Regions from separate parts of the Homo sapiens genome. Here region 2 is linked to region 1. The links come from fine-mapping of genetic effects on gene expression. A gene starts in region 1. The other region holds a variant in brackets. All regions are shown on one strand. Distances are between the middles of the regions. Region 1 holds the start of MEX3D (mex-3 RNA binding family member D). Region 2 has its middle 2.7 kb from the start of ADAMTSL5.

Region 1 (2,895 bases):
GCAGGTAGACCCAGCCAGACAGGTTTATCACAAAAAACCCCACAGGTGCAAGGAAGGCCCCGAAGGACAGCTGGAGGAAGAGCCGCTGGGAAAGCGGCTATTTTTTTTTTTTTTTTTTTTTTTTGAGAGGAGTCTTGCTCTGTCAACCAGGCTGGAGTGCAGTGGTGCAATCTCGACTCACTGCAACCACCACCTCCAGGGTTCAAGCAATTATCCTGCCTCAGCTTCCTGAGTAGCTGGGATTACAGGTGCGCGCCACCACGCCTGGCTAATTTTTGTATTTTTAGTAGAGTCGGGGGTTTCACCATGTTGGCCAGGCTGGTCTCTAACTCCTGACCTCGTGATCCACCCGCCTCGGCCTCCCAAACTGCTGGGATGACAGGCATGAGCCACCGCGCCCGGCAAGGGTGGCTTTAGAGGTGGACAACGCCCGTTGCGGGGAAAGGCACCCCAGAAGAGGGTGGGGCTCCACATGGAGGGTTCTGGCTGGTGTGAGCCTGCCCTCGCCATGGAAGCACCACTGTGGTAGAGAGGTCTCTGGCTGGGGGCACAGAGACCGGGTCTGTGGCCTTGGGTGGGGCGGAGGAGGTGGCGTGGAGGAGGTGGCCTGATCCCAAAGCCGGGAGCCAGCCAGAGGGGAGCTAGGAGAGACTAGGGGAGAGGGACCTCAGGCCCTGGGGTGTGCATGATTGTGGAGCTGTCCCTGGCACAGAGGCTGGGGGTGGGGCAGGGGCCTGACCCTAAAGCCCACCTGATAGCAAGGGGTACTTGGGGACTGGGACCCCAGGCCCTGGGGGGTGCACCGTGGGGCGGGGGTTGGACCCTGGCACAGAGGCGGTGGGCGGGCAGGAGCCTGACTTCGAAGTCCAGTGGGATCGCGAGGGGGACTTGGAGAGGACCCCACGCCTTTATGCAGGGAGGTGGGGGTCCCTGGCACAAGGAAGCGGGCGTGGAGCAAGAGACCTCGCTTGGGGGCGACCCGGATCTCTAGGGGAAATTGGGGAGCGGGACCTCGGGCCCTGGGGCGCGCGAGGCAGGGACTCTCAGGCTTGGGGAGGGAGCGCTGTCCAGGCAGGGGCTGAGCCGCACACACCTGCAGCAGCGCCCGCACGTGCGGATGCGCCCGGGTTCCCGCCCGAGCGCCGGGCGGAGGCGGGGCCTGGACCACGTGCCCGGCGCCGGCCCCGCCCCGGCCCCGCCCCGCGCGCCTGCGCCCTGGGGGCCGCCCATTGTTGGGCCGCGGCGTGACGTCGCGGGGGCGGGGCCGGGGCGGGGCCGCGGGAGGCGGCGGGAGGGAAGGAGCGTCCCGCGCCGCCGCCGCCGCCTCGGCCGCCGAGGAGCCGCCGCCGCCGTCGCCGCCGCCGCCGAGCCGCAGCCAGAGTCGCTGCCGCCGCCCGGCCCGGCCCGGCCCGGCCCCGAGCAGCCCCGCGCCGCCGCCGCCCCGCCCGCCCGGCCCCCCGTGCCCGCCCCCGCCGCTGGATGCAGGCGGCCGGCGGCCCAGCTCGCAGAGGCGGAGGGCGGCGCGGGCGGCGGCGGCGGCGCGGGCGGCAGGAGCGCGGGCCCCAGCGCTAGCTCCCGCCATGCCCAGCTCGCTCGGCCAGCCCGACGGCGGCGGGGGCGGGGGCGGCGGCGGCGGCGGCGTGGGGGCGGCGGGGGAGGACCCCGGACCCGGACCTGCGCCCCCGCCCGAGGGCGCCCAGGAGGCCGCGCCCGCGCCCCGGCCGCCGCCCGAACCCGACGACGCGGCCGCCGCGCTCCGCCTGGCGCTGGACCAGCTGTCGGCGCTCGGGCTGGGGGGCGCTGGCGACACGGACGAGGAGGGGGCGGCCGGGGACGGCGCAGCGGCGGCGGGGGGCGCGGACGGCGGGGCGGCTCCGGAGCCTGTGCCCCCCGACGGACCTGAGGCCGGCGCGCCCCCGACCCTGGCCCCCGCCGTGGCCCCCGGGTCGCTGCCGCTGCTGGACCCCAACGCGAGTCCCCCGCCGCCGCCGCCGCCCCGGCCGTCGCCCCCCGACGTGTTCGCGGGCTTCGCGCCCCACCCCGCGGCCCTGGGGCCCCCGACGCTGCTGGCCGACCAGATGAGCGTGATCGGCAGCCGCAAGAAAAGCGTCAACATGACCGAGTGCGTCCCGGTGCCCAGCTCCGAGCACGTCGCCGAGATCGTGGGTCGCCAGGGTGAGTGGCCCTCGTCGGGGGTTGCTGTCCTGGGGGTCCCCGCACCGTCCGCCCCGGGGAAGGGGGTCGCCCGAGCCCAGCCCAGCCCGCGCCGGACGCCCCGCACCGGACACGCCCCGCGTGGGCTCCGGCCTCGGCCGCTGCCTTTGCGCCTTTGTCCTGCAGCCGCCGCGGGAGAAAGTTGGGCGCAGCCCGCGCTCCTCCCCTGCGCGCTCCGGCCCCGCCGCCGCCTTTGTCTGGGCCGCCTCCAGCCCGGAAAGGCTCCGGGGAGCCGCGCCGCAGCCCAGGCCCTCGGCCGCCCGCAGGGGCACCCCAGAGAGGGGCTCGAGGGCCCGGGGCTCCGGCCGGGCGGGGGGCGCCCCACACCCAGCACAGGCGGCGGGGCGGGGCAAGCGCAGGTTTAGGGGTGGCTTAGGGGGGCCGCCTGCAGGACCGGGAGAGAAGGCTGACAGTACAAAGAGCGCACGTCTCAGTCTCCAGCCTGGGGCCCTGACTGGGGTGGGGACGGGACCGGGCAGGAGAGGGTCCCTGCTCCACTCTCTGGCCCCGAGTCAGGGATTTCGGGGCCTGGGGAAGGACCGGCTGTCAAAGCCACTTCTGGGGTGCAGCCTGCTGGGCAGGCCGGCGGGCGGCAGGCCCCGGGTGTGGGGTCCAGCGGTGGCATCGTCGGAGCTTCCCTCTGGCCGCCCCATTGTTCTCTTTGTTAGAGAGCGAGGCTGA
Region 2 (2,895 bases), 52 kb after region 1:
GAGACCAGCCTGGGCAACAGGGGGAGACCCCCAACTCTACAAAAAATATAAAAATTAGCCAGGCATGGTGATGCATGTCTGTAGTCCCAGCTACTTGGAAGGCTGAGGTAGGAGCATCTCTTGAGCCCAGGAGTTTGAGACCAGCCTGGGTCGGGACAACATAGCAAGATCCTGTCACTACTAAAGATCAAAAAAATTAGCCAGATGTGATGGCATGCATCTGTAGTCCCAGCTACATGGGAGGCTGAGGTGGGAGGATCGCTTGAGCCCAGGAGGTCAAGGCTGCAGTGAGCTGTGATTGCACCACTGCACCCCAGCCTGAGCGACAGAGCAAGACCCTGTCTCAAAAAAAAGTAAAAAAAGAAAGAAAAGGACAGAAAGATAAAAAGAAAAAAAAGAAATCTGGCCCCTTCCATTTGCTGCCGTCTGTCAGCATCTGCTTGAGACAGTGCATCTCTTCGAGCAGTCAAGAAAGTCCAGCCTACCTCAACTCACGCCATCCCTGGAGCCCACCCCAGCCACGGGAAACCACCTTTTCCTCTAATGGCCCAGTTCAAGTCCCAGGGCAGGCTCTCATTGGCCCACTTGGGTCACATGGTCATCCCCCAGCCAATCCCCGTCTCTAGGAGATGGAATTATCTGTTTGGCCAAGCATGGGTTACGTCATACACAATGGAGGAGGTGGGCCAGTCCACCTGATCCACGTCGCCTGAAAGTGACAGAACAGGTGGTTTTCAGCACGTGAAGGTGGAGGGGAAGGGGCACCCTGGGGAGGCCATGTCACAGGCCTGGAGCCTGGGCAGTGGGGTAAGAAAGCAAGAGGTCTCTTCCAGGAATTCTGGACGGTGCCCGGGGCACTGGGTGCCTGCAGGGAACAGATTCCGAGCGTGCACAAGAAACCGGCACAGAATGAGGACCGGGCGAGCAGCGGCCAAGGAGGGTCCAGGGCCCTGAGTCCCATGGGGTGACTCCAGCCGGGGAGGGTCCCAACTCTGCGTGGCCCCTGCTGGTGCCCAGGAACAGACGGACAGCCCCAGGGACCGGGGGGTCCAGGGGTCTGTGGGGCAGGGATGGGGAGGCCCCACCCAGTCCACGCAGGAGGTTGAGGTATCCTGGGACCACCGTGTCCTAGGTTTTGCATTTTTAGTAGAGACGGGGTTTCACCTTGCTGGTCAGGCTGCTCTCGAACTCCTGACCTCAGGTGATCCACTGGCCTTGGATCCCCAAAGTGCTGGGATTACAGGCGTGAGCCACCGTGCCCAGCCCAGTGTCTGCAATTTGATGAGTTTGCACATATGCAGTCACCACACTCAAGATGACAGGCCTACCTGTCACTTCCCGAGGTCCCTTGTGTCCCACTGTTTTTGTTCTTTTATGGTAAGAACCCTTACCATGAAATCTACCCTGTGAACACAGTTTGAAGTGTGGGGTACCATACTGTTCACTGTAGC[C/G]CAGTCACACAGCAGATCGCGGCATTCCTTAAGCCTCAAGGCCATACAACCATGAAGGAAATGGAACCTAATTGATCCACATCCGCCGGGACCCGCGTCTCAGTCTCCCCTCTAGCCCTGACGCTGCCTCAAGGAGGGGGTCCAGGCTGAAATTCAGAGTAGGGGGACTCGGCTGATTCCTGGGTCAGGGTCCAGGCAAGGGCAGGGGAATGTAGTAAGCTGGGACCCCGCCCAACTGGGACCCCAGGAGCCTCTGAGCCTCAGCAGCCACCCCCTCCACCTACACCGGGTGTCTTAGGCTGAGCTCCCAGCCTCCTCCTAGGGACATCCAGAGGACAGAGGTGGGAGACGGTAGGGGACAAGAACTGGGGGTGGGGGGCAGCCCTCCACATCTTCACCACCACCTCTGCCAATCTTGCCAGCTCTAGAGCCCCCACGCAGGGTGCAGTGGCTGCGGTATGCACTCCCAGGAGGGAACAGGGGCTGCGGGGTACACTTTCCATAGAACTCAGTGCCTACTGTATGCGCTCCCTGCAGGAGACAGCGCCTTATGTATACCTTCCTTGCAGGATGCAGCACCTGCTGTATACCTTCCTTGCAGGATGCAGCACCTGCTGTATATACTCTCTACAGGATGCAGTGACTGCTGTATGCACTCCTCTGAAGGTGCCATATCTACTGTATACACTCCTTTGCAGGGCAGAGTCTACTCTATGCATTTCTACAAGATGCAGCACCTGCTGTATACCCTTCCTGCAGAGCATAATGCCTGCTGTGTGTGCTCCCTGTGGGCGCTGTGCTTTCTGTATACCTTCCCTGCGGGGCACAGGGCCTGCTGTCTGCACTCCCAGTGGAGCTCTGTGGACTGGACATCTGGGAATGGGGCACATCTGAGGAGGATACAATTGTCCTAATGACACATTGACACATGTCCTGAGCTGACTTCTTTCTTTCTTTCTTTCCTTTTTTTTTTTTTTTTTTTTTTTTGAGACGGAGTCTCGCCTGTCTCCCAGGCTGGAGTGCAGTGGCGTGATCTCGGCTCACTGCCACCTCTGCCTCCCGGGTTTAAGCGATTCTCGTGCCTCAGTCTTCCGAGTAGCTGGGATTACAGGCACTCACCGCCATGCCTGGCTAAGTTTTATATTTTTAGTAGATACTGGGTTTCACCATGTTGTCCAAGCTGGCTTCAAACTCCTGACCTCAGGTGATCCGCCTGCCTCGGCCTCCCACAGTGCTGGGATTCCAGGCATGAGGCGCCGCGCCCGGCCTGCCCTTCTCTCTTGACCCCTTCAGTGAGGGCCTTCTTGACATCCCCGCAACCACCACCCCCCAACCTGGGGCCATCAGTGGTGGGCCTGGGCTATTTTCTCCAATAGTCCAGGTCAGAAGGTGGGGGGTCATACATTCCAGGGGGCTGCCTTACCCGCTGGCCTGGGACTGGCTG

What was found. PIP is the estimated chance that this variant, and not a neighbour inherited with it, causes the effect.
Region 2: its variant is the best candidate, but not a certain one, in a credible set for the expression of MEX3D in whole blood (INTERVAL, PIP 0.70).

Annotation. Positions count from the first base shown.
Region 1 is chr19:1,566,744-1,569,638 of GRCh38, reverse strand. It overlaps MEX3D (mex-3 RNA binding family member D), which reads left to right and starts at 1,314. Exons shown (of 2, transcript NM_203304.4): 1 at 1,314-2,175. The coding sequence starts at 1,581. RefSeq lists silencers at 1,035-1,084, 1,125-1,314.
Region 2 is chr19:1,514,298-1,517,192 of GRCh38, reverse strand. No RefSeq gene overlaps it. Among named protein-coding and RNA genes, the nearest start is that of ADAMTSL5, 2.7 kb to the right of the region's middle. The variant C/G (reference allele first, on the strand shown) is at 1,452.